Homo sapiens: one gene and its partners. The protein of the gene in region 1 binds, or shares a complex with, the protein of each later gene. Each region holds a gene or a part of one and is shown on either strand. Other genes may lie near its edges. The genes, in order: NUP153, RANBP2, CETN3 and NUP93.

Evidence for each region.
Region 2: NUP153 (region 1) and RANBP2 share a complex: the UniProt entries of both Homo sapiens proteins name them as parts of the nuclear pore complex.
Region 3: NUP153 (region 1) and CETN3 share a complex: the UniProt entries of both Homo sapiens proteins name them as parts of the nuclear pore complex.
Region 4: NUP153 (region 1) and NUP93 share a complex: the UniProt entries of both Homo sapiens proteins name them as parts of the nuclear pore complex.

What each region holds. Positions count from the first base shown.
Region 1 is NC_000006.12:17,703,895-17,711,594, forward strand, and holds the start of NUP153 (nuclear pore complex protein Nup153), read right to left. Parts: upstream 3,032-7,700; 5' UTR 2,494-3,031; coding exon 2,383-2,493; exon of another isoform or gene 2,236-2,382; intron 1-2,235. UniProt on the Homo sapiens protein: Component of the nuclear pore complex (NPC), a complex required for the trafficking across the nuclear envelope. Functions as a scaffolding element in the nuclear phase of the NPC essential for normal nucleocytoplasmic transport of proteins and mRNAs.
Region 2 is NC_000002.12:108,757,452-108,764,485, reverse strand, and holds part of RANBP2 (E3 SUMO-protein ligase RanBP2), read right to left. Parts: intron 6,074-7,034; coding exon 5,938-6,073; intron 4,542-5,937; coding exon of another isoform or gene 4,429-4,541; exon of another isoform or gene 4,373-4,428; intron 2,386-4,372; coding exon 2,291-2,385; intron 1,250-2,290; coding exon 1-1,249. UniProt on the Homo sapiens protein: E3 SUMO-protein ligase which facilitates SUMO1 and SUMO2 conjugation by UBE2I. Involved in transport factor (Ran-GTP, karyopherin)-mediated protein import via the F-G repeat-containing domain which acts as a docking site for substrates.
Region 3 is NC_000005.10:90,392,756-90,399,789, forward strand, and holds part of CETN3 (centrin-3), read right to left. Parts: intron 6,795-7,034; coding exon 6,603-6,794; intron 3,810-6,602; coding exon of another isoform or gene 3,738-3,809; intron 1,353-3,737; coding exon 1,309-1,352; 3' UTR 1-1,308. UniProt on the Homo sapiens protein: Plays a fundamental role in microtubule-organizing center structure and function. As a component of the TREX-2 complex, involved in the export of mRNAs to the cytoplasm through the nuclear pores.
Region 4 is NC_000016.10:56,733,129-56,740,128, reverse strand, and holds part of NUP93 (nuclear pore complex protein Nup93), read right to left. Parts: intron 1-7,000. UniProt on the Homo sapiens protein: Plays a role in the nuclear pore complex (NPC) assembly and/or maintenance. May anchor nucleoporins, but not NUP153 and TPR, to the NPC. During renal development, regulates podocyte migration and proliferation through SMAD4 signaling.

The DNA of each region.
Region 1 (7,700 bases):
GCCTGAAGTCGTATCAACTCTAAGACACCTTGGATCATAGGTGTTATGCTGTTAAGACATCATCTCCCCAAAATTAGATTTTTATTTTATCTAAGTACATTTAAGCTGTGATCAGGGGCCGGGCGCGGTGGCTCACGCCTGTAATCCCAGCACTTCGGGAGGCCGAAGCGGGGAGATCACGAGGTCAGGAGATCGAGATCGTCCTGGCTAACATGGTGAAACCCCGTCTCTACTAAAAATACAAAAAATTAGCTGGGCGTGGTGGCGGGCGCCTGTAGTTCCAGCTACTCTGGAGGCTGAGGCAGGAGAATGGCATTAACCCGGGAGGCGGAGCTTGCAGTGAGCCAAGATCGCGCCACTGCACTCCAGCCTGGGTGACAGAGCGAGACTCCGTCTCAAAAAAAAAAAAAAAAGCTGTGATAACTTCAGACATCTGGAAAATATTAATTCCCTTCTAACCTCTATTCAGACCATCCAATGACCTATATTTAAAACAAGTCATTTTTCTACATGTCATACAAGAAAATCTAAGCACTCAAAGGCATTCATAGGAGAAAAGAAAGCATGCATGTGTAACTTCCATTCTACAGACGGATTAGGTTAAATGGCCAGGCTTGTGACCTGAATTCTAATCTTAAATCTGCTCGCAAATACCCCTTTTCTTCACAAATTTGAAAACTAAGCACTTTATGTACATATCTGGGGGAAAACTGGTGGGAGTAGTAACAGTGCCAAACCTAACCATCAGTAGAGAACGACTGAAAATACCTGAACCACAATTTTTACTACTCAAACATTTCCCTCAAAATAAAAAACATTTAAGAAAACTAGAAGACAAAAAAAAAAAAATTCCTCAAATCTTTACTTTTTTTTTTTTTCTTCGAGACAAGAGTCTCGCTCTGTCGCCCAGGCTGGAGTGCAGGGGCAAGATCTCTGCTCACGGCAAGCTCCGCCTCCCGGGTTCAAGCCATTCTCCTGCCTCAGCCTCCCAAGTAGCTGGGACTACAGGCGCCTGCCACCACGCCCGGCTAATTTTTTGTATTTGTTAGTAGGGACGGGGTTTCACCGTCTCTGGATGGTCTGGATCTCCTGACCTCGGTGATCCACCCGCCTCGGCCTCCCAAAGTGCTGGGATTACAGGCGTGAGCCAACGCGCCCGACCCAAATCTTTACTTTTAAAAATCTGTTGATAATGACACAATTTAACAACATCAACCATGTGAAAGTGTGTAATCTTTATTAGCATCCAGAATAAAGTAATCTAGGAAGTCTACCTTTAACAGTAGGCAACAAGTTATCAGATCCTTTTGCTACACTTTTGTTTTTCAACAAATTTAAGACACACACTTCCCACCTCAGTATCACTGATAAGTGGCTTTATTAAAATAAGTTAACATTTTCCTATTCAATACTTCTAACAATCAATATTTTAAAAATGGAATTTTCTCAGAATCAACTATCTCATTTACAATTAGGATAATCCTTTTTTATAATTTTAAACATCCAGGAGTTCATACAGTGGCTAAACTATAAGACCACCAACATTCCTGGAGTGTCAAAAGTAACTATACTTCTAGAATACGCCTCATAATATTAAAATATTTTGTGTATGAGATCAGAGCTGGAGTCCCGGTCAACTGTGGAGAATGGCCAATTCCAGCCTCCAAAATAAAGGCGGGGGTGGCGGTGTTGGGGGGGGGGAGGGGAGTCGCGCAGCAGAGAAAAGACGTAAGGGTGGAGAGGGACTTTCAAAATGCCCCAGTGCCACGGTTAACTATAACCTGGTTAATAAAATCTAAGCCAATGCTCTCAAGACGAGGAGGGCCACAGGCAGGGGAAACCGAGAATTAACTCATAGGCTGAGACTAAGTTATTCCACTTTCCATGTAACAGCGCCCCCCACAACTCCCCGTCTGCCCCAGAGTTAAGATTCCAAGGGGCAGCCCCCCCTCCTCAAACACACTAAAGAAGGGACACCAGAAAACAGCAAGTATAAGGGCCATCAACCACATCTTTTCCTTTCTCCCTCGAGAGAACATGAGTAATACCCTCAAATTCCAAATCCCCGCCAAAAAATAAAGAAACGCGCGCATCATGGGCCTACAATTTCTTTTCCCGCCCAGAGCCTGCCTGGGAAAGCCCCTGACCCAGAGAGTTGGGGGAAAGGCGGCCCAAACCACACGTGTGCGCCGCAAGGCTGGGCCTGTCTCAGCCCACTTCCCGTCGCCACCCCCAACGGCCTGAGCTCCCCCGGAGCCTCACTCGGGCCTTTCCTCAGGCCCTCCTGTCTGCTCCACGTGGGGCGCCGGGGCCTCGAACCGCCCGTCCCCTCCAGCCGAGTTTCCCCACCCGCCAGGCCACCGCGGCGTCGGGGTCCCATACCTGATGCTGTTGTCGCCCCTGCTGGTAAGGCTTAATTGGCCCCTGGTGGCAACGCCGCGTCCGGATCTTGCCGCCACCGCCCCCTCCGACTCCTCCGGCTCCCGAGGCCATGGCGGAGCCTCCGCCGCTTCCCGCTCCGGGGCGGGTAAGGGGGCGGGAGAGGCAGAGGCGGAGGCCTTAGAGAGCCTCCCCCGCCGCCCGGCCCCGGCCCAAAAGTCCGCCCGCGCTGTCCACACAGTGGGCACAAGCACCCCAGGAACCGCGAGGTTGCGAGCAGGAGCGGAGAGAGGGTGAGTGCTGGCAGCGGGGAAGGGGGTGGCGGCCGCAGAGGCCGAGGAGGCTCCGGTCCGGCCGCCTCTGCGGACCCCCGCCTCTGTGTGTGTCACGGTCTCTATGGAGATCTCCCGCAGAGGACAGCACGAACAGTTCCCCGCGGTGCTGAGGCCTAACTCGACCGCCGACTGGTGGGAGTTCTTCCGTCGCCCTAGCCGTAGCTGCCGCAGTTGAAGCCGCTGGCGACGCCCGCCTACCCCTCCCCTGTGCGCACAGCGCCCGCCCCGCCGCCGTCGTCGTCGTCGTCCCTGCAGCCTCCGCCGCCGTTGCGCCTATTACCCCTGCTAAGGCGGCTGCCGCGGTCGCGAGCCAGAATGTCGTCACTCATCGGCGCCCGACGCATTTGCATCATCATGCTGCGACGAGCTGATAGGCAAAGAGGAAGGGCTGGTCGAGTCCACGCTCTCGGCCGCGCGGCACGCTGGGAAACGTAGTTCAACAACGGAACGCGGCTTCTCGGAAAGGAAGAGGGACGGGGAAGGAGATCTCCGGGGCGCCGCAGAGGCACAAAGCCAAGGGGTACTTTTGCTGTTCTTGGCTGTAAATTAGACTTTGAAAAGACACTTAACATAAAAACAGTAACCTCTTCCCATTCTCCTTCTCCCTGTCGGTTGGTTAAGTAGGCAGGAAGTAAGCAGACAGTAAAATCAAAGACAAGAGCTAATGATTTAAGAAGGAGGAAAAAAAAATCTGTGGTTGAAAAATAAAGTCCATGATCCTTAGAATTAGAAAATATATACGGCTTCATTAATGTTTCTTTAAACATATAAAGGTTTTGTTGCAGACACACGGGGCTGGAATTCTGGTTCTGCCACCCAACCTATTTGACCTTGGATGAATCAAAACCGTCTGAGCCTTAGCTTCCTCCTCCATAAAATGGGAGCTTTAAAATCCACCTTATAAAGCTGTTGTGAGGAGCAGACGTGATCATCTATGGAGAGCATGTATATTTGCTAATAGACGAAAAATGCGATGAATGATTACAATTATAACCCATGCAGTCAGCTAACATTAGGGGTAAGTGATATATCCTTAACAATAAAAGTATACTATATTTGCTCCAAATATTTAGGAAACTGAGTAAGTGAGCTAGACTCAAAGACTGAATCCACAAAATGTATATTCTAGGAGTTGACGATTAGAAAGGTCCTGGTGATCACATAGTCCAACCCTCTCATTCAACCAACCAGACAAGATGTCCAGAGAAATTTAGGTGGCACAATCAATGACACTGAGATGGGTAATCAAAGCCAGGACTATAACCCAACTTTTCTGTAAGAGCTAAAGACAAATAGCCAAATGATTAGGGAGGAAAAATATGTTGTGAAAAATCTTAGACTTACTATAAATCTTTTTTTTTCTTTCTTTCTTTCTTTCTTTTTTTCTGAGAGACAGAGTCTTGCCCTGTCGCCCAGGCTGGAGTGCAGTGGCGCGATCTTGGCTCACTGCACCCTTTGCCTCCCAGGTTCAAGCTATTCTCCTGCCTCGGCTTCCTAAGTAGCTGGGACTACAGGCGTGCACCACCACGCCCAGCTGATTTGTGTATTTTTAGTAGAGATGGGGTTTCGCCATGTTGGCCAGGCTGGCCTTGAACTCCTGACCTCAAGTGATCCACCCGCCTTGGCCTCCCAAAGTGCTGGGATTACCCGTGTGAGCCGCCACGCCCAGCCTATTTACTATAAATCTCCCACTTACTAGCTGTGTAGCCTTGGGGAAGTTACTGATCCTGTTTCTTTCTTTTTTTTTTTTTTTTGAGACGAAGTTTTTTCCTCTTGTTTTGCCCAGGCTGGAGTGCAATGGCGCAATCTCAGCAACCTCCACCTCCTGGGTTCAAGCGATTCTCCTGCCTCAGCCTCCCGAGTAGCTGGGATTACAGGCATGTGCCACGACGGCCGGCTAATTTTGTATTTTTACTAGAGATGGGGTTTCTCCATGTTGGTCAGGCTGGTCTCGAACTCTCAATCTCAGGTGATCTGCCCACGGCCTCCCAAAGTGCTGGGATTACAGGCGTGAGCCACCGCGCCCAGCCCACTGATCCTGTTTCTAAGCTTCGTTTTTTTCATCAGCAAATAGAGCGAATATTGACCTCACAGGGTAGTGGTCTGGTGAAAGGATTAATGTATATCTAGTTCATAGTAACTGCTTAGATAGAAAGCATCCAATATCAACCATCAATCAGATATAAATAATTAGTTCCAAGACATTTATACTATCTCCACAATCAAACTGCACAATTCAGGTTCATTGTTTAAATCATACAAGTGAAATTGTAAAGCCAGTCTTCTAGTACCTTTGAACTTGTACCTTTCAGCGCCTAAAGAAACTATGCTATACCAAGCATAGGTGTACACATCAATGGCTTTCAGTGGCACCTCTGACCATAACCATCAAGATCAAGACAAGTTGCCAAATATGATAAACAAAATTAATCTATTTTCCGCTGTCTCATCCTAGCTTCATGCCTCCTCCCACCACTAACTTCCCACTAAATTCTCCAGGTATGCCCCCTCTTCCTCCTGAAGCACTTCATCTTTCTTAAAGACAGTTGTTTCCCTCAGGTGCTATCTTCCTCCTATGCAGAAATCCTATTCTTCCACAAATCCATAGCTAGATATTTGACAGCCAAGTAAAGTAATTCACGATAAGCTAACTCATAGGGAAGATCTGTACCTGAATCTTTAATTGGGTTATACGTAGAGGAGATTAAACCATAGCCACATCCCATCTGCCCTCTTCACTCTATGAGACCCAGAGTTTCCACCACAGAACAGAGGACTGACTGGAATCAAAGCTCACCCCTTTCTTGGAGGCTATTCTTTGATGTGCTGGACACCCTTCACAGCCAACCTTTGAAAGGAAGAGAGACGCGAAAGAATTGGGCCAAATGTAGACAATGCTTCAGAAATAGAAGATTGGTAGAACTTGAGGAGATATGGGAAAATCCACATTCCTTTTACCCATGCTCTCAACTTTTTACCCATTTCCACAATTATTTTATTTCTTGGAAGTAAAATAGTATTTGAGGGAACTATAATGCATTAATCTCACATTCATGTGATTGAGTCATTGGAAGCCGTGCCAGGCTTGAGAGCAGAGAAGGAATAAAGAGACAGGAGGAAATCTGCATTCAACCTGGACCTAGTTTTTTCAGCCAAATAAATGGCATATTGGGAGACACTGCAATTCATGAAAAGCTTGTTGCTACAATAGTCCTCCTCTGCCAAGAAACTTCTTTATTTTGTTCCCCATATAATATAGTAGAAAGTGGCCGAGCACAGTGGCTCACACCTGTAATCCCAGCACTCTGGGAGGCCAAGGCGGGTGGATCACTGGAGGTCAGGAGTTCGAGACCAGCCTGGCCAACATGGTGAAACCTGTCTCCACTTAAAAAAAAAAAAAAAAAAATTAGCTGGGCGTGGTGGTGCTCACCTGTAGTCCCAGCCACTCGGGAAGCTGAGGCAGGAGAATCGCTTGAACCATGGAGGTGGAGGTTGCAGTGAACTGAGATCATGCCACTGCACTCCAGCCTGGGCCACAGAGTGAGACTCCATATCAAAAAAATTAAAAAATTAAAACAACAAATATATATATATATGTATATATATATATGTAACCAGCTGCCAATTATAAATTAGCAAATAGGCTGCTGACCCATCTCTAATAGATAAGGAGTATCCACTAATTAAAAGTGAAATACAATTTAGTCTAAACCCAACCTAGATTGAAAAAGAGCCATCATACATTCTTCAGAAGGTACTAATACAATTCTGGCCAAAAGAATGTTTAAAGATGACAAGTACAAGAAGTTACGAAATTTTATGTAGTTATTCCACCTTACCAAAACAAAATGAGGTATCTGCTGTGATGTCTATTAAAACAAATTATCACACTCATGCACAGCATAACAATGTTTCAATCAACAATGGGCCCAATATACAATGGTGGTCCCATAAAGAGCTGAAAAATTCGTATTGCCTGGTGATACTGTCTTTGTCCTAAGGTCTTATTGCAACACATTACTCACGTGTTTGTGGTGATGCTGGTATAAACAAACCTACTGTGTTGCCATTTGTGTAAAAGTGGAGTATGTACAATTATGTACAGTACAGAATACTTCATAATGATAAGTGGCTGTTTCTGGTTTATGTATTTACTATACCTTTTTTTTTTTTTTAACAGGCACTCCTTGCCATTTCCTGTTGCTACCATACTTTATTATTTTAAAGTGTATTCCTGGTCAGGCATGTGGCTCACACCCATAATCTCAGCACTTTGGGAAGCCAAGGCAGGAGGATCACTTGAGGCCAGGAGATTGAAACCAGCCTGGGCAACATAACGAGACCCCTTCTCTACAAAGAAATGAAAAAATTAGTTGAGCTTAGTGGTGTGCACCTGTAGTCCCAGCTACTAGGGAGGCTGAGGCAGGAGGATCACTTGAGCCCAGGAGTCTAAGGCTGCAGCGAGCTATGATCTCACCACTGCAGTCCAGCCTAGGTAACAGAGTGAGACCCCATCTCTAAAGAAAAAAATAAAGAAAATGAAGCTATTGGGTTTATTTATTATTTATTTATTTATTTATTGCCTGTTTGCTTGTATTTTAGGGAAAGAAGGGCCACACAACGGAAAGATATTTAAGGATGTAAATCATTGTATTCTCATTAACTTACTGTGTTCTCTCTCTATTGGGAATAAAGTAATATTTAAGACTAAATTAACTAATATGAGCAAATTTTGATTAACTACATATATCACTTGATTCCAACATGCCATATATTTCCTCTTCCTGACTACATGTATCAATGTATACTAGACTTTGGTATATATGTGTTTATGTACATTACATTATAGTTTAAGGCATATTTTAAATTCAATCTTGAATGGAAACTCAGTTTTATTGGATGAAATAATAACCAAATTTAGGAAGGCAATCCCATCCTAACATTTAAGACAGTTAATGAATTAACTGAGATTAATTCATTAAAACA
Region 2 (7,034 bases), on another chromosome or scaffold:
ACGCCATGGCTACATTTGTTCCTGGGGCTTTTAAAATGCTCTGGGCTTCTTCAAACTTGCATTTAAAAAGTGCTGCTTCCTCAGGAGTTTTGAACCTAATAGCAAGTTGTTCTGGTTTTGGCAACTCATCTGCATAATCAAGGGCATGCCATACAAAAGATCTGTCTGATCCAGCATTTGGTGTCAATTTCATATCTGGACTGATGTAATGATTTGCACAGATTTTCAATACTTGCTCTCGTCTCATTAGAAGGCGAATTTTACCAGATGTTTTATGCCTCAGTATTTTTACATTGCCAATCCCACGTTCTTTCCATTCTTTGGATTCTACATCGAAACGAAACAATTTCGCGCGGTTGCAAAAGAATTCTTCTTCATCTTCCTCACCAGTTTTTACTTCAATCTTATCAGGAAGAGGTACTACAGGCTCAAAGTGAGGACCGTCATCATCATCATCCCCATGGGCACTTCCTCCATCTGTCTCATGATTCTTGTTTGCTGTCTCTAAAGTGGGTGTTCCAAATACTGATTTCCCTGGACCATGGAAAGTAAACATATCATCACTTCGCCGAAAACCAGAATTCTTTTGCTGACTCGACCCCATGTTTTCTGTAAATGAAATTCCAGACACATTTTTGCTTCCAAAATTGAATGTATTTCGAGGCCCAATGGTTTGACCACCAGGAATTGGTTTGGCTCCACTATAGCCATCTCCTTGCAAGGGTTTATCTGAAGTCAGGAGACCTAAAAGGCTTTCACTGTTACTGTAAGCTGCAGGAGGGGGCTGTGTCACAACCTGTGGTGAGGAAAACGTGAAGTCACCATCATTTGATTTGAAATTTGAGTTAAATTTAAAAGGAGTTGGCTGTGTTGTGTGTGCTTGTGTTGGCAAAGATGGCCTTAATCCTTCACCCGGCATGGGCTGAACAAAATTAGTTTTCCCAAATTCTATAGTCTTAGATTCTGCAGATCTTGAAGCATGAGCTGCAATCGGAGGTTTTGTGAAATATCCTGGTTCTGGCAAAGGTGGATTTGTGCTTGTCTGTTGAACATTGTAATTAAAGTAATCATCACCCCTGGGCGATAGAATTCCCGTTGCAGGAGACTCAAAACGCAATGCAGGAGGACCATACATCTCCTGAGAGAACATACAAGCAGATGAGCTTTGCACTGGCGGTGTGTGCATCTGTTGCGGATAGGCATAAATATGCTGTTGGGGTGGAAGCCTATTCATGCCATAGACTGGGCCCTAAAAGACAGAAAGTTAAAACATTTTGTAGATTGTCTACAAAACTACAGATAACTAAATGCAAACCAATTCTCACAAACTTCAAACATGAATATGAAGTGAAGAAGATCTCATTAGGGGATGTAGTACACATCATTAACCCGTTTATGCCAGAGGCTGCAAATTTTCTGTGTGAAAAATCAGACCTTGGCAATGACCTTGAGCAGTAGGATATAAATAACTCCCATAAGCTTAGTGTTCCAATAATGGAGCACTAGGCATAAGTAGGTTAAGAGAAAACCACATTACTACAAAGATACTTGCATATATACTTGGCATATAATGAAAATTATGTATAGCATCTTAAAATCTACAGCTAAAGTCATAAAATAAATACCTTCTTCATTCCTAATTTATCAAATGATGTTAATGATGATGATGATGATGATGATGATGATGGTAACATTTATTGAGCATTTATTAATGTGCCAGCTGGGCACTGTTCTAAGCACTTTACATTATTATCTCATTTTAATATCCTCAAAAACCCTATGAATTAAGGTATTATTATTATCCTCATTTTACATATGAGGCAACTGATGCATTGAGAGGTTAAGAAACTTGCCTGTGGTCAAAATAAGCAGAAGAGCAAGGGTCTAAATGCACCCCAACACTCTGTCCTCAAAGCTGTCACATTCAACTACCACTGTAATATTGAGTCTTCAATCAATTGTTATATATATAGCTGTATCAGGCCTGAAAGTACTTACCACATAGTGGGTCAGCAAGGGCATTACAGTTCTATTTCTGTTAAAACAGAACGATGAAGGATCCACCACCACCACTCCCATTTTTAAAATATTCTAAATATTCACACTTATTAACACAAAAATAAGGTGACTAAGAAGGATAATTTCTGTATTTGGAGATAAATTTAAAATATCTACATTTTAAGGGACATAAAAGTTTTAATAGTGAACTGCTCTCTTGAATTTATTTGAAGGAACCCTAAACAATTTAAAAAGGAAATAATTATAAATGTATAAATTATTCCTTTGTTACCTTTGTGGGAGTAACATTAGCTGCTGGTCTGAGAAGATACTGGGAATTATATGCTGGTGACTGACTATAATATACTGAAGGGCCAGTAGTTGCAACTAAAAAAACAAAAAGAAAATAAAGAAAACACTGTTAAAGTCTATACTACAGTTAAGACTATCTAGGCAAGAGCTATAAATACAAAGGCAATAGAAATTAAAGAAAGATTTAACTACATAAATTTTAAATTTCTGTACATCAAAATACACCAATCAAGATTATCAAATGACAAACTAGAAAAAAACTGCTAAATATGACATGAAGAATAAGAGAATAGCATTGCTGTGATCAACAAGAACAACTACCTCACAAGCATTAAAAAAGGAATAAAGAAGAAAGTAACTGTTGCCTTTTCTAAGAAAGATCAGTATGATGTGGAATTATGGACATTCAGTCACAGAAAGGACGTAAGGAACCAAGATGCCATCTGATGGTCAATGCATTTGAAGTGGGCCTAGAAAATCTGCAGAAAGACTAGGTTGTATTTTGTAAACTAAAGCTATTACTGAGAATGTTCAGCTCAAAAATCACCTGACAAATTCATGGACAGGATGTCATAAATAACATAAAATGTGTTCCCTGGCTTAAAATAAAAAGCACATCAACACTCATGCTGATGTACAAACTGTCTGCTCCCTCTGTTTTGTGTGTTTTACCAGGAAACAAAATGACTAGAAGGCACCCATGTTAATGGCAAAACTACCAATAGTCATTTGCTTGAACTGTTTTATGATAGTTTTACCAGAAAACAACCAAAAGACCTTTTATGCCTGTACATGGAAAAAGAAACAGAAACTGTGCCAAGAGGTTCCAAACAATTGCCTCTGGAAAGCACTGAAAAATCAAGACCTAGAAAAGGCTAGCCAGAAGCCCAAGTTTGATTTTGGAAACCTTACAGAGGTGAGGATAGCTATTTTGAAATTACTATGGGGAGGAAGCAGGCACAGAACACAGAACAACCTGACAGAAATGGCCCAAGAATCTTAAAGTCTTGCAAGATGTCTGTCTGCATGAAAGCAAAAAGAAAAAATAAAATATTAAATAAAAAAAAAATCTTAGTCTGAAGTTTAAGTAGGGACTTTAATTGACTACTGACTCTAAACTGTGCGGCTCTAATAAATCTACTAAAAGTAATCTAACTTTTAAAAGCACCATATGAATAGACAATTTAGGAAAGAAATGTTAATAGGCCTCAAGGAACATGTTTTTGAAGTGAGCCTTGAAAAATCCGCAAAATGATGAGGTTGCATTGGGCAAACTGAAGCTATTATGAGAATGTTCAGGTCAAAAAAATTACCTGACAAATTCATGCAAAGGAGATCACAAGGAACACAAATGTGTTCGCGGGCTTTAAAAAAATCACATTAACATTCATGTTGATATACAAACTCTTCTCCATCTGTTTTGTGTGAGTTTTACCAAGAAACCAAACAACTGGGAGGTACCCACGTTGAAGATGGCAAAACTACCAACTGCCATTTGCATGAATTGTTGACCATGACTAGTATTAAAAAAACTTAAAAATTGATATCACTTTTGTTCCTACAAATTGGCAAAGGATTTTATAAACCAGTAAGTCAGCATTAGCAAAGTGCGAAAATGGCACTATCAGATACTAGTGGTAAGAGCATAAACTGAATATTCTGAATACCCTATAAAACTAGGACAGTGTCCTAGAATTTGTAATGGCATAAACCAGAAACAACATAAATAAAGGAACAGAATTTACAGTACTTCCATGTGATGGGATACCATGAACTCATTAATGTTCAAAAAACATTTAAGTTTAAAAATGCTCAGAACTAAAGTAACATTTAAAAAACAGGCTAGCTCATCTACACACAACATAGTAACATGGTAACAATCTCATAAAAAATACTATATGTATAGAGAAAGAACTAGAAGGAAATGCTCTCAAATATAGGAAATGTTAATAAGGTGGTTAGCTTTTAGTTTTCTTCACCCTGTTCAGTACTTCTGAGTATCTCCTATGAGCTCATTAATCTTTAATTTTAATCATCTTATTTTTAAAAAACAAGGACCATCTTGATATATGTTTACTTTTATTAAGGAAAAAGAATCTATGAACACAGGAACAGAAATCAGGAGATCTTGGCTCTCGCCCTTTCAGTGCCACAAAGCTGTTTTGTGAACCTGTAAATAATCCATTTGGAGTCTCCATGTTTCTCAATTGTAAAATGAGGATGTGCTGCTTCTACACATTTCACAGGGTCATTGCAAGAATAAAATGAGACAATGAGAATGTTGGATTTACATGCTTGTATAAGAACAGAAGATCTTTTATGCCTGTACACAGAAGAAATGGAAATCATGACCCACAAGGCACCAAATAACTGACTGCACACATCACTAAAAAAGCCCCAGGAAAGGCTAGCCGGTTTGTTTATCCTCTTACAAGGACCTATATGATGTGTAAGGTTTTAAGAAAACAAGGTTTGAACGTTAGACATTTCATATACTTATCTATGACTTATGACATTTAATAAGCTTGATTTCACAAAGATTTTCTGTTATTTTGCTTGTGTTGAGAAGATACTATCACAAAAGGCTAGTGGGGTTGCCTTAACTATATGAACCATCACACAAATGTGCTCATCTAAACTAGATTTTATTCTAAATCTTTCCTGGGCTAAAAAGAGAAAAAAAAAGGGCACTACTACTACTACCATTTCAGAAGTCTGTCGTACGTAAAAGGAACAATTTTGTTATTTCTCGCTGCCTGGGAGCAATGTATTATACTGGCAAGTGCTTTGGAGTTACACCACCGGAGTGTGAATCTCAGCTCTATCAATAACTAGCTGTATAATAATGAGTAAGTTACCTAACCTTTCTTTAATTTCCTTATTTATAAAAAAGGGATTAATAATGGTACCGGCCATTCTAAGTTACTGTAATTAAATAAAATTACATTCACAAAGCACTTTTGCACATAGCCAACCCACAGTAAACACTATTAGTAACCTTAGTTCATTAACTGTTTACTGTATACTCTAATAAATGTCTGATACACACCCACGCCCACCTGCACATACACAAATGCTCATAGTAATTATGTAAGGCAAGTATTATCTCCACGTTTCAGACAGGTTATCTTACACAGCTATTATAGTAAGTGATAGAGCAGAACTTAAAAACCCAGTATGATTCAGGTCCAAACTCCTTTTCTTTCTTTATATAACCATAATATTTCAAATTAAGTAAGATTTCCTATATAACGTCCTGCCTCTCATCATTATCATCAAAATAATTCCCCAGAGGTGTAGGTTCTTAATTAAGCATTTCTTAGTGCATAACTCTATTCATTAACATTTTTCAATTTAAGGAATAATCTCATCTCAGCTCATCTGAGGTGTGGATTAAGTGTTCTTTAAGCCTTTATATACACGTGATCACATACGGCTCGTTTTTTCTGCTTGGGATTATAAAAATCTCCGTAACACCAAATACAGCTTTTGAAGTCACATATAAACAGACGTTGACATGTATATTAACAAACATATATAAACAAGGTGATTTCACACGTTATCTACTTAAAAGAGGGAAGTAAAGTAGTTTTACTAAAATATGCGATTATCCACTTGCCAGCTCACCTGTTAGTGGAGCCCCATGAAATGTCTGTGACCCCTGATATCCATCAGGCACTGAGTCTGGTCCATAATTCTCTGTGGGCCAACGATGAGGGGATGCTGAGTTACTGCTATTTAGTTTCAACTCCTGCATTTCTTTCTATTGGAAGAAAAAAAAATCAAATAATTTTAAACATTTAATTATATCATGACAGAAACAGTGCTGGGGAAACTTACTCTTTTAAATTTAAATAACTGATTTTTTTTTTTTTTTTTGAGATGGTGTCTCGATCTGTCGTCCAGGCTGGAGTGCAATGGCACAATCTTGGCTCACCGCAACCTCCACCTCCTGGGCTCAAGCAATTCTCCCACTTCAGCGCCCTGAGTAGCTCGGATTACAGGCGTCAGCCAGCACGCCTGGCTAATTTTTTGTGTAATAGTAGAGATGGGGTTTCACCATGTTTGCCAGGCTAGTCTTGAACTCCTGACCTCAAGTGACCCACCACCTCAGCCTCCCAAAGTGCTGGGATTATAGGTGTGACCCACCACGCCCGGACCTGATTATATCTTTTGAAAGTTTCTATTTGCCAGTGAGTTCTAGGTACCTGGTGCTGATTTTAAAATATGATTCTTAATTTGTTAAAAATTTATCTGCTCCCATTTTCATTTATTAATACAAAACCTAATTTATTAACTCTCACCTAAACAAATAACCTCCTAAATGATCACACCTTCATTTCCATTCTACACTTGCCTACATTAACCTTTCTGACGTTCACCTCCAGCCAAGACAATTCCCTGCTCAAAAAAACAAGTATCTACAAACTAAACTTCTTTCCTCAACTTTCACAGTCCTCTAACATTACACTGACCATCCTTTCAGTGTGTTCTTTCTGCACTGCAATCTGGACTACCTGACATTCCGCGTTACCTCCCCAAATTAGCTTTTCACTTAACCCCATGCTGAAACAAAATACAACTAATTCTCAAGGTGATGTTCAAATGCTCCACCAGGAAAGGGAAAAAAGTAGTAGCTGCAGAGAATTTATTATGTATATAATAATACGTCCAATGCACTTAAACTCTTAATTTTTATACTATCTACACTGTTAGGTAAACAA
Region 3 (7,034 bases), on another chromosome or scaffold:
AGTCTTGGGTATTTCTTCGTAGCAATACAAGAATGACTTAATATACACTTGCTTCCTAGATAACTGTTTGAAATGTCACTACTGCTATAGTATTCCCTACTGATTTTGTGTTAAATTTCTAGTGGACAACCCTTAATGTAATACTCTTAAAAGGCTCACAACATTTAAAGCGCCTCAAATGATACTACACTTTAAACTTAAAAATTTAAAACAAGAATTCTAAAGAAAGATTGCTGAAATAGACAACTCAATTCCGTTCCTGGGAGAGCCCATAACACCGAGTACTAGATATGAGTGAAGGATCCATATAGGTACTATTTTTTTCTATGATCGATCTCCATAACCACTTGTTTCCCCCTAACATACACTTCTACAAGGCAGAAGAGCCCACCAGTACTTGGAAACTGTGTCTCTACTATTTCCTGGTGAATCACAGACTGTTCCTTCATATAGGTAAAACATAGACTTAAATTATTTCTGTGGCTTACAGTTTTCTATTTTCATCACTGTGACATGTAATTGAGTGATAATTACCTTAACAAATCAAAATTCCAAAATTTAAATCTCTCAGTCAAGAAGTTAGAAAATTCAAATTGTATTCATTCAATTTGTTTAAGGAAATATTCAGAAGAAAATTAACTTTCATACTTACAATGATACCAAGTTAAGAAACATAATACACAAGGATAAATGGGTCTATCTGCACAATACTTATTCCTTCTAAACTCAAAGACAGGACTCTTAAAAAAGGAATTAGGCTTATATTGAGTCAGCTTGTATTAAAATATAGAATGTCAAAATTGATGAAATGTTAGGTAATGGAAAAATGTGCCACTCTATTGCTAATTGTATTTCAATTTTTGTTTCAGAAACTAGTAAAATTATAAAGGGAAGATTTAAGAAATCCACTCTTGAGGGTTAACAGATACTAGGAATAAAAACAAATTTACCAAACTTTAAAATTCTAATAAAATAAATATTTTATTAACGAAAGTCTGGAAAATGTGTGCACTAAAAAGTGACTATAAATGTTAAATTAAAAAACCTTCAAAGAACACATATCACACATTCAATTTTTAAAACTTTATATAAAAGCTCTATTATAAATACAAAGCTAAACTATCTGAGTACTAACAACACAGTTCATACAAAGAAACTTAACAGTAGTAAAATACAGATATATAAGATGCTTATTTTTGGTCCTTTAGGATAAAAGAACTAAGTTGGTTTTTTTCACATGGCTCCAGGCACAAAAATAGAATATAAGATGGTAACTGCAACATTCTTAGTGTTTATCCTTGTAATTCTTTAAATGTCACCAGTCATAATAGCAATGAACTCCTCTTGGTTTACTGTGGTAAGAAAGAAAATGAAATAGTCAGAAATATAAACATTTTATTTTTTCAGAATCCACGACTACCATTTTACACTAAGTATTTAAAAAATTTTACATTATGCAAAATTATTACATTAAGACATGGCTTTTTGCTTTTACTTCTTTGTTAGGAAGTGGAACATGTTTATTAAATGTAACTTCTTGGATGCAAAAATACATATAATGTGATAAACATTACAAATTAGTATTCTATAATATTAACTGGGGAAAAGATAATGTTACCAAAAAAGTCAATCACAGTCATATTTGTACATACTTGCTAAAACATTTTAAATGCTTGACATTTCAAGGTTCTTTAAACAACCCTCTTTATAATCTTTATTCTACTAGTTCATTTAGCAAATCCTTCCTTTACAAGTAAGCTTGAACATATCATGCATGTAAATTAGATTTCTAAAGAATGAAAATATAATAAAATTATAAAAAGAAGTTAAATTATTATTTTTTGAACTTTTATATACTTAAAAGCCTATGTTAAAGAATAATTAAAACCAGGTCACCATACCTCAAAGGTATCAATAAAAATGGCAATTTGAAAAGATTACAGATGTAATCTTAATCACCAAAGTAATCCAGTAACTATATAGATGTAAAGGCAGAAAATAATCATGGATAAGGACTAATTTTTAGTTTGCCAAAATTATAAATATAGTAAGAATCTCCAATTTATAAAACATAATGTTTAAGACAGCAACCTAGAAATAAGAAATCAGATAATCTTATAGAATATAATTTTGAAAACCCGACATATGCGCACGTATCAATTAAGAAAAATGTTCAGAAGATACTTCTGGTAAGTATTTAGCATTTAGCCCTAAGACTTAATACATACCTAAACAATGCATAAATTATGAATGATAATTTTGATAATGCCAAAAGAAAACTACACTGAGACTTAAGACCTGGTCTCTAGTCACAGCTCTGCACAGAACAGCTCTGCATCTCATTTCCTTCATCTGAAAACACTGAACTATGAGATGATGTTTTAGATTGTTTAACTCTTATTTACCATAGAAGGTATTATATGAAAATACTCCATTGAATCAAACATTTTTAAGTGGCTAGTGAATGCCAACACCACAATAAGTGTTGCGTAATATATCAAAACAGACACCAGGCTTCCTATTCTGGAATACATTAAAACCGAAATGAGAAAGATATTATATGATATTATAAAATTATTGTTAACTTTCTTAAGTGTAACATTGGTATCATAGCTTTATGAAAGATATATCCTTGTTCTTAGTAGATGGATATGCTAAAATATTAAAGGATCAAGTTTTTGTTTTATTATTAAAATTTAATTAATTAATTAATTAATTTAGAGACCGGGTTATGAGACTGGCTAATCGTTGTATTTTTGGTAGAGATTAGGTTTCACCATGTTGCCAAGGCTGGTCTTGAACTCCTGGGCTCAAGCAATCCACCTGCCTCAGCCTCCCAAAGTGCTGGGATTACAGGCATGGGCCATGGTGCCTGGCCTAAAGACTGAGTTCTTGATATATGAAATTTATTTTCAAATGATTGAGAAAAAAATATACACACGACAGGTAAAGCAAATGCGGTAAAATACTAATTACTAAATCTAGGCAGAAGGTACAATGGTGTTCATTGTACTAGTCTGACAATTTTTCTGTTTGAGAATATTCATAATGAACAGTTAGAAAAAATTAACCAATTAAAAAATGTTGAGGAGATAAAACATGGTCATAGGGAATGAAAAGAATATATACTGCACTGGTTCTAGAAACCACATAGAAAACCGGTTTTGATAACTATGTTAGTCAGTTTTTATACTTGAAACAGAACAAATGTTTTATAACACAAAATACTATTTATTATTAAAACAAAGACCAAATCAGTGTTGAAAAAAAATCCTTCACAATGGTAAAAATTATTACTAATAAGAAAAATTTAGGTAAAGGTAAATCATTACTTGGGCTCTAAAATAAAAATACAGAATTTGGAAAGGAAGTAGAAAGAGAGCTGGGGTGGGAGAATACCATCAGAAATACAGTCAAAGAAAGAATAGTGTATGCCTCACAGAAATAAGCTATGAGTTAGGAAAAATGCACCCTCCAGAAGCTGACAGGGAACTATGAAGCCATGCAATCAGTATTTAACATCTACAAAACACTATGACAAACATGGTAAGAACGTAATACAAAATCTGTAATACTCCAAACTACTTTCAAGAATCTTACAAATTGATGTAGTGATCTTTAACCTTTGCAGTTAAATAGCCATGTCTGAATATCTTAGGAAAGCTATGATCCCTCTCTCTTTCCAATAAATACAGTTCAAATATATAAAATTATTAATCAGTTTAGCCAGTGTGCACCTTCACTGAAGAACTCCCGATTTAGACTGAGGCATCTAGACCAAATAGGAAGCAAGAGTATGTTCTTAAGAACTGTATTAAGAGAAAAAACATAAAACAGCCTTAGAATGATTTGATTACAAATCATTTTAACAGTGTAATACATCCATGATTAAAATATTCAAAATCCAAAAAGTACTTGTTACTTAAAGATCTAGAACTTTTTCTTGATCTGTAAAATTTCAATACTCAAACTGCAAATTTTAAGTTTCATATATAAGTTTGAAAACCACAAAACACTTAATTTTTATATTGTTTATATACAAAAACTTTAAACTATAATAGCATTTCAAAAGTATTTAAAATACGGTCAGCCTTCTGTAACCACAGGTTCCTCACATCTGCAGATTCAACCAACTGCAGATGAAAAATATTTGGGAAAATAACACAATAAAAAATAATACAAATAAAATAAAGTATAACAATTTACATAGCATTTACATTGTATTAGGTATTATAAGTAATCTAGAGATGATTTAACGTATACAAGAGGATATGTGAAAGTTATATGAAAATACTATGCCATTTTATACAAGGGACTTGAGCACCATAGATTCTGGCATCCTTAAGCGACTTGGAACCAATCCCCTGTGCTTATCAAGGGACAACTGAATTCCATGATTCATACCTAAAAACACACTACTTAAACCCAAGAAAGTAAAAATTAGAAAGTGGCTCAGGAAATTAAACTAGCTACTTTACTTTAATTGTCTTGTAGACAATTAAAAGACAATCTTCTATATCTCTGTGCATTTGATTTTATAACCTTCTCTATTAACAATATCTTATATCAAGTTCCTATATCTAATAAATCTACCACAATGCCTAGCTTAAAATAAGCTTTGGTAAAACATTTATTGAATCAAGAAAATATGACACTTTGTTTCCTTTTATACTGCCTTCTTTAACAAAATTTTTCATACATCAACCATTTCATAGAGCAAATCTTATTACAAGTTGCTAACAATAAGAATTTTACAGAACTAAGTAGATTAAGTACCTTAGAGACCATCTGGCTTTGAAGGGGAAAAGCAAATCTTAGAATTGGAAGTTCCAACTGAGTATGTTGCTAATACACTGCTTCCTATAATAGCATGTAATTTTTAAAACTCCATAAACATAGAAGTCTAGTTAATATTTTACTTCATAGCCCGAAAGGCAATACAATATTACGTTTAAAAGCACATTCTTTGCCATTTTGGAGATTTGATTTTGAGTTCTGGCTCTACCATGTACAGTATTAGCTTTGTGATAACCTGGGCAGATTAATAATCTCTCAAAGCTTTAGCTTCCTCATCTCTATATATGCATCTATTATACACATGTATAGGTATAATACTATATCTACTTTACAAGTTATTATGGAAATTAAGTGACATAATTAATGCTAATATCCAATATAGTAGCTGCTAAATAAATGTTAAAAAACATCATCATTATTTAAAAGATTATCCATTCTGGCTTTTCAAAACGTTCCTTTCATTTTTTCCAAAAGATGTGCTGTGTTTTATTTTATATATGCTGTTGAGGGGGCAGGGGGAAGTGACTCTTTCTGTATCATTACCACAGCTTTATGTCTATCTTGTAGTACATCTTATTTACCTTTAACTTCACATTCACCATGTTTATTATTCTATATACCCAATATTTTTAAAATTTCATTGCTCTTAGATACTGAAAAGCATGAAAAAGTCACAAAGAGAGAAGAACACTAAAGTCCACAAAAAAGACAGCAAGGTCTAATCTTTAGCAGTTTAACATACAAATAAAGTGGTTTTTATCTCAACAAAACTTAGTTTCCAGCCAAAAGATTCCATATTAAGTGTATGAAAGTATCAAAACAATTTGTTTCTCTAAATGCTATAGGCCTTCAATGGAAGTCTCATGATTCATAGAGCGTTATGGGAAGCTTTTGGGAAAAAGATGGTGTTTAATATTTACCTGAGAGAATGAATCACATTTTAGCAGGCAGAAATTAACAATTAGAGCATTCTAAGATTAAGAAACAGCAGGATGAAACGAATAGCATAAAAATGTGTTTTCAGGATAGCATATGTTGACAAAATGTGTACATACAGGAGGTGAGGGTTAAAGAAGAAAAGTGAAAGAATACACTGGAAAGTAAAATCAGTTACTCAAGGTGGGATAGATCATAGAAGGCTTTGAACTTTACTCTGTAGGCACTGAAGAATCGTTTCAAGTGTCTAAACACAGAAATGGCATTATCAAATGTATATTTTAGGAAAAGAATGATACCAAGAGACTGAAGAAGAGATTAGAGACTTTTATATGCCGAAAGGGCAATTAGGACACTACAAGAGACTGCAAAGTGAAAGCAAGAACCACATCTGCCTTTTTCATTGTGTAGCACCAGTCAACACGCAGGACACTGCACCCAGTAGGCAGCCAAGGCAAGAATAAATGAGGCCATTATAACATTCCTAACTAGAAATTAGGGCCTGAACTAGGACAGCCACAATGGACAAAGATAAAAACAGATTCAAAACATTTGAAGGGGAAAATCAATAGAACTTAGAACTTAGCATGTAGGTTGAGGGAGAAGCCATTAAAGACTGAAATTATATTGAAAGGCTGAAATTTTGGTGGTTTCACCTTCAGAGAAAAGTGAAGGACCTTCTTGAAGTATAATTGGTTTTAGAGATCTGCTTCATTCTAAATTGAATATGTGAATTATTTAGACAGAAGGTCCATTACAAGAAGCAGTTAAGTTTACAAAAAAGTCTTGCAAGTCATTTGGTTTTAGAAAAATGTATTACATGTGTAGCATCAGGAAAACCTGGAAAATACGTTTCACTTAAAACTTACTTTCTCCATCACCATCTTTGTCAAATTCTTCTATCATAGCTCGAAGTTCTTCATCACTCATGTTTTCACCCAATTCTCTAGCAACACGTCGCAAATTCCTCAAGCTTATTTTACCTGAATCATCATCATCAAATAGTTTAAATGCCTTGAGTATTTCTTCATGGGGATCTCTTTCCAATATCCAGTCTGTCACTACAGTTTAAAAACATATATATTTTAATAAACCTGCATAATCACAAAGGCATTCATTTGTGAAATCAACTAAATATTAGATGAGAATTAAAGCTGTGACTGTCAACTTTTAGTCTGACAATAAAATGTCAAATGAGATCCCCAAACCCCGAGATAAACCTGAAATTAGAAAAATCAAATCCATATTTTAAATGTTAACCTTTTTTATCATGAGCAACTTGTCTTATTATAAAAGTAAGC
Region 4 (7,000 bases), on another chromosome or scaffold:
GTCAGCCCCCCGCCTGGCCAGCCGCCCCGTCCGGGAGGGAGGTGGGGGGGTGAGCCCTCCGCCCGGCCAGCCGCCCCGTCTGGGAGGTGAGGGGCGCCTCTGCCCCGCCGCCCCTACTGGGAAGTGAGGAGCCCCTCTGCCCGGCCAGCCGCCCCGTCCGGGAGGGAGGTGGGGGGGGTCGGCCCCCCGCCCGGCCAGCCGCCCCGTCCGGGAGGGAGGTGGGGGGGTCAGCCCCCCGCCTGGCCAGCCGCCCCGTCCGGGAGGGAGGTCGGGGGGTGAGCCCTCCGCCCGGCCAGCCGCCCCGTCTGGGAGGTGAGGGGCGCCTCTGCCCGGCCGCCCCTACTGGGAAGTGAGGAGCCCCTCTGCCCGGCCAGCCGCCCCGTCCGGGAGGGAGGTGGGGGGGTCGGCCCCCCGCCCGGCCAGCCGCCCCGTCCGGGAGGGAGGTGGGGGGGTCAGCCCTCCGCCCGGCCAGCCGCCCCGTCCGGGAGGGAGGTGGGGATGTCGGCCCCCCGCCCGGCCAGCCGCCCCATCCGGGAGGGAGGTGGGGGGGTCAGCCCCCCGCCCGGCCAGCCGCCCCGTCCGGGAGGGAGGTGGGGGGGGGTCAGCCCCCCCGCCCGGCCAGCCGCCCCGTCCGGGAGGTGAGGGGTGCCTCTGCCCGGCCGCCCCTACTGGGAAGTGAGGAGCCCCTCTGCCCGGCCAGCCGCCCCGTCCGGGAGGGAGGTTGGGGGGTCAGCCCCCCGCCCGGCCAGCCGCCCCGTCCGGGAGGGAGGTGGGGGGGGTCAGCCCCCCTGCCCGGCCAGCCGCCCCGTCCGGGAGGTGAGGGGCGCCTCTGCCCGGCCGCCCCTACTGGGAAGTGAGGAGCCCCTCTGCCCGGCCACCACCCCGTCTGGGAGGTGTGCCCAACAGCTCATTGAGAACGGGCCAGGATGACAATGGCGGCTTTGTGGAATAGAAAGGCGGGAAAGGTGGGGAAAAGATTGAGAAATCGGATGGTTGCCGTGTCTGTGTAGAAAGAAGTAGACATGGGAGACTTTTCATTTTGTTCTGCACTAAGAAAAATTCCTCTGCCTTGGGATCCTGTTGATCTGTGACCTTACCCCCAACCCTGTGCTCTCTGAAACATGTGCTGTGTTGTCCACTCAGGATTAAATGGATTAAGGGCGGTGCAAAAAAAAAAAAAAAAGAAATTTAGCATTTAATTTTAAGCAGAAACTCTGCCCTCAAACCTTATTAATCAGACTATGACAGGAGTAAAACACAAGAATGGTGTTCAACATTCTTGTGAATGATTCTTTCTTTTCTCATCCAAGATTGATGAGAAAAACCTCCACCCAAGGTATCAAAAGTTTAATACTGATTCTGTTCTCCTCTCTTTTGAATACATAAACTAGCTAGATGACAATATCATTCCACTTTTTACTATTATCTGTCAGCTGTCAATTACAACAACAACCCCAAAAAAATTAAATCTTGACAGACATCATTGTTTCAGATGCCTCTGGAAGAGAGAGGAGAGGGAAAAAAAAATTGTTGGAAAGTTCTTTACAGCCCTGTGAGACTAAGTAAAAGAGACCTTATCATTATTCAAAAGGTAGAGTTCTGGAGAAAACAAAGACCTAAAATAAATTAACCTAGACAGAAGAAAAAGACTTGGGTGATTTAGTAGCAGTACTGCCCTCAGTGACTCAATGTTTGCAATAAGGAATGGGTAGTATCAGCTTTCCTGATACATAAAATATCACTTGTATTATTTCCTCTTCAATGAGCAAAGAGAAGTAATAACCTGGCATCACAAAGAAAAATAAATTATCCACATAGTAACTTTCTGATAAACTCTTGGCTGTCCAGCAGAAGGCCCAGCTGGGAAGAAAGTGCTGTGGACTACAGCTTGGCTCCATCCCACGCCAGCCCTCTGACCCTGGGGCTGGATCGTCTCTGGATGAGGGGGTTGCTCAGGTGATCTCTAAGGGCCTGCTCACCTTAAAGAATTTACAAATGTGAGATGTTTTAATTCGGTCTTTAAACTTACTTGATGCTTCCTGGGAAACAGCCCCATTTTAGTGGTGATGGAAATTATCTCTACAGAGAACCTTAGGAATGATACTAGTTCTGTCTTACAACTAGCATAAACAGGGGCAGATCACCAAGTCGGCCCCAAAGGGCCTGTGGCTTTGGCTCTGGCTCTGGCTCTTCTCTCTAAACCAATGCTACTCAACTTTGCCCCACAGGGGACATTCAGCAATAGCTAGAGACATTTTTGGTTGTCACAACTTGGGAGGCAGAAGGTGTGCGGATTCTAACAAAAGTCTGGGTCCCTACCATTATAATTTTAAAACCATTGCATTTACAGAATTATCCCACTTGGGCTTTTTATGGCAGTATATTCATACCTTGGTATACCACACACAGCAATGGAAAAGAAACTACAGACTACACAGAACATGGATGAATTTCACAGACATCACAATGAGCTGAAGAAGCCAGATACAAAAAGAAAAAAAAAAAAGCACCGTATGACTCCATTTATATGGATCTTAAAAACAGAAAAAATGAATCTATGGGACTAAAGATCAGAATACTGGTTATCCTTGGGAGTGTAGGGGGAGTGCTGATTGGGAGAAAGCACAGCAGAGCTTTTCGGGTACTAAGGACTGAACTGTATTCTCTCAGAATTCCTGTGTTGAAGCCCTACCCCACAATGTGATGCTATTTGGAGATGGGGTCTTTGGGAAGTAATTAGACTCAGATGAGGTGACGTGGGTGGGGTCTTCAGGATGGGATAAGTGCCCTTAGACACACCAGAAAGCTTGCTTTCCTCCACCTACCTCTCCCCACACATACACATCAAAGAAAGGTCTTGACTACACACTGAGCAGCGAGGAAGAGGGCCCTCACCAGAACCCAACTATGCTGGCATCCTGATCTCGGACTTCCAGCCTCCAAAACTGTGAGGAAATAAATTTCTGTTTAAGCCAGAACAACAGATATTTTGATATTTTATTATGGTGATCTGAGCTGACCAAAGTACCAGAAATGCTTTATATTTCAATATGGACAGTGGTCACATAAGTGAATAAATGTGTAAAAATTCCCTAAGCTGTATACTTAAGGTTGACTCACAGTTTTTTAGAAGGAATAGCAAGAAACAAAGCACTGACTTAGCAAGAAACAACCTAGCATTACCAAGGTGAGAGTTGGGAGACTTTTCTACTTTTCATTTGATTCCCTTGTCAGGGCAAATTCTTTTCCATGAGTATATGTGATCTTACATAATTTTTAATAACTTGTTAATTTTAATATTGCTCTAAATTCCCTACTTCACAGTGTGTGTCTCACCACTGCCCTTGAAGACTCAATGGCAATGACTGTCAAATCCACACCTGCCCCCGTGCACTCAAACTCCAACCGTGAGTTTCCAGGCACCACTGGTGCATCTCCTCTCAAGCACATAACTGTCACACCCACCATGTCTCCAAATGCAGTTATCCACCCCCAACTCCTCCTCCGCCTCTGCCCCTGGCTTCTGTCTCCCAGGTTCTAACTCACCCTGTTCCTTTGCATCTCTGTGTTACCTCAGATTGTTTACTTACAGGTGTCCCTCCACTCTCAGACTCAGAAACCAAACACATGTAGATACATTTTTCCATAGCAAGCAGGCAGGTATTCCTCATTATCCAAACTATTGCTACTCTCTAACTAAAACTCAGGAAACGAAATACTACAGACTCAGATAACATGATATTCCTCACTCTCCAAACTCTCATTACCGAAACAGATTATTTATTTATTTATTTTTGAGATGGAATCTCGCTTTGTTGCCCAGGCTGGAGTGCAATAGCGTGATCTCAGCTCACTGCAACCTCCACCTCCCGGTTTCAAGCAATTCTCCTGCTGACTCAGTCTCCTGGGTAGCTGGGATTACAGGCACGTGCCATCACGCCAGGGTAATTTTTGTATTTTTAGTAGAGATGGTGTTTCACCATGTTGGCTAGGCTGGTCTTGAACTCCTGACCTCAGGTGATCTGCCTGCCTCAGCCTCCCAAAGTGCTGGCCTTACAGGCGTGAGCCACTGCACCCAGCTCCTAAACAGATTTAAATAGCATGGGGTATTTATATTTTTGCAACATCCTCTAACTATTGCTTTCATCCCCATCACTACCACCTAAGGCCAGACCTTCATTCCTTTAAGTCTAAGTCCTTCTTACATGCTAGAACATGGGCTTCCTCCTCCTAGCCCTGCCCCCAACTCTATGCACCCTACTCTCTGTGGCCACCTCTAGCTTCCTTTTTTTTTTTTTTTGAGACGGAGTTTCACTTTTGTCCCCCAGGCTGGAGTGCAATGATGAGATCTCAGCTCACTGCAACTTCCACCTCCCAGGTTCAAGCGATTCTCCTGCCTCAGCCTCCCGAGTAACTGGGATAACAGGCACGCACCACCATGCCCAGCTAATTTTTGGGGTTTCACCATGTTTGCCACGCTGGTCTCGAACTCCTGACCTCAAGTGATCCGCTCGCCTTGGCCTCCCAAAGTGCTAGGAATACAGGCGAGGGCCACTGCGCCCGACCCCATCTCTCTTTCTGACACGGCTGTTGCCCCTGCTCAAAAAACCTCACTGGCTCCCATTCACAGGGATCCATCCAGGTGAGTCACTGCTTTTAACTTTCTACCTCCCAGAATAAACCTTGTGTACCAGTCACTTGATTTACTTGGTCCCTGACTATCCTTGCACATGTCCTGCTCTGTGCCATTTTTCCCAAAAAGAAACACCTACCCAACCTTCCACTGCAGCCCTGAGCTCCAGCCAGCTCCTTCACTCTTTAGCTCGATGACTTTGGGCAAATTAATTACTCTCTCTGGGCCTCATCTGTGAAATGGAAAAATAACTGCATCTCCCTCACCTGTCACAAAGTAACCACTCAATAAACATTAGCTATCATTATTACCACCAACTCAAGTCCTACCTACCAAATGGTCTTCCTCAATACACATTACCTACAGAAAGTTTCCCTCATCTAAATTCCTTTTACTCCATTCATTTATTTGCCCGACATCATCTCCTGAGCTCTGTCTGTGTATGAGTCCCCACTATGGGCTTTATTTGTATAATCTAATGTCATCCTCACAGCAGACCTCTGGTGTCCAAAGGGACCAACTGGTACACAGGTTTTTCAGCAGGGCAACAGCCGTGTCAGAAAGATAGAGATGGGCACAGACAGTAGGGTGCATGGAGTGGGAGGGGTTAGGGGGAGGAAGGCCGTATTCTAGCATCTAACAAAGACTTGGACCTTCCCCATCTTCCTCATTTCAGTAAATAGTATCTTCATGCTAGAAGTTGCTCAGGTCTAAAACCGTGGCATTGTCCTTGACTTCTTTTCTCCTCTTATACCCTACATTAGCAATTCATTTCTACACTACATTTATTCATATATACATGAGTCAGACCCACTTTTTGTCTCTTCTACCACTATCATCCTGGTGCAAGCCACTCTCATGTGTCACATCTGGGTGATATAGTAGCTTCCTGTCTCCCTGTTCTTACTTTGTCCCCTCCCACTTCCCAGTCTGTTCTCCACACCACACTGGGAAGGATCCTCTAAAGGGGCTCAAACCTTCAATAGCCCCCGTCACTCACAGGCTGAGATCCAAAGTCCTTACCCTGTGCTGTGAGGCCTACATGACTGTCCCCGACCCAACTCCTTCTGTTACCACTCTTCCCCAGGATTATGTACTTTGGTCCTATGGCCTTCCACTCTTCTTCAAATATGCTAAATACACTGCTGACTTGGGCTTTCAGTCACTGTTTCCTCTGCATCTGCAGGAATATTCTCCTCCAAAATACCTACCTAGCTAACCCCCTTAATTCCTTCAAATCTCTGCTCAAAGGTTTCCTTTTTAAAGAAGCTTCTCAGCACACCCCAGCTAAAGCAGCCCCACCGTCCACTCTACCACATTTCTGTTTTACCTCGTTGGTAGTATGTTATCAATTTCTGGCATCACATGCCTACCTGTTTGTTCATTTATTGTCTGTCTCCTAACAGGCTCCTTGAGTCTGGGAACCTTGTCTGGTCTGTCCACAGCCCCATTCCCAGTACACTGAACAACAGCACCTAATGCTCAATAAATATGTGTTAAATGAATGAAGGAAGGAAGAGAAGACTATAACTTTGGTGTACCTAACAGATCAATGTAGGAATTTTTGGCAAGGTTTGAGAAAGTTTCTTCTGGCTTTTAGCAACTGTGTATGGGGGATCTAGCTGTTTGAGGACACAGTTGAAGCTATAAAAAAGTATAAAGCTATAAAATATTTCAAACGTTATGTTATTCAGGGGAGAAGAGATGGAGGTATTAACAGACATTAATACAAGGCAAATAAGTGAGCTAGGAGGACTCTAATCTATCAAAACAAAGGGGATTCTCATATCTCTATGTCCAGCCCAACTCTTTTCCCAAGCCAGTATTTCCAACTGTCCACCTAATACCTACACCTGGATGACTCATGGGTGCCTCAAACTACACATGTCCCAAATCAGACTCATCACTTCTCTCTCCTTAGCCACTGCCACCACCAATGCTTCCTTCTCGTGGGTTCCCAGTCTCTTTTCGTAAAACAATTAGCACACAGTCAGGTAAGCCAGGAACCACCTTCAAGTCACCCCAGCGCCCCTTTCACCTCCTCAACACTCAGCCAATCTCAAGCTCTACTTCTCAAACCTTTTGCAAAGTCATACCCTCATCTCTCGCCCCTTCTCTGACTTGCACGCCGACTAAGCCTTCTTGTTCCTCCAATCAACCTCCCCATGGTCAGGGAGGTCTTTCTGAAATGCTTTCCTGCCTTAAGTCCATCAGGGACACCTTCCATCCCCTACAGAATAAGATGCTCATGTTTTGACAGAGCTATAAAGGGTGCTCTCCATAGAACAGACACTGCCACCCTTACTATCCTCATCCCTCGCTGCCTTCCCCCAATTATATACCCTAGCAATTCTCTATTCTTTGGGG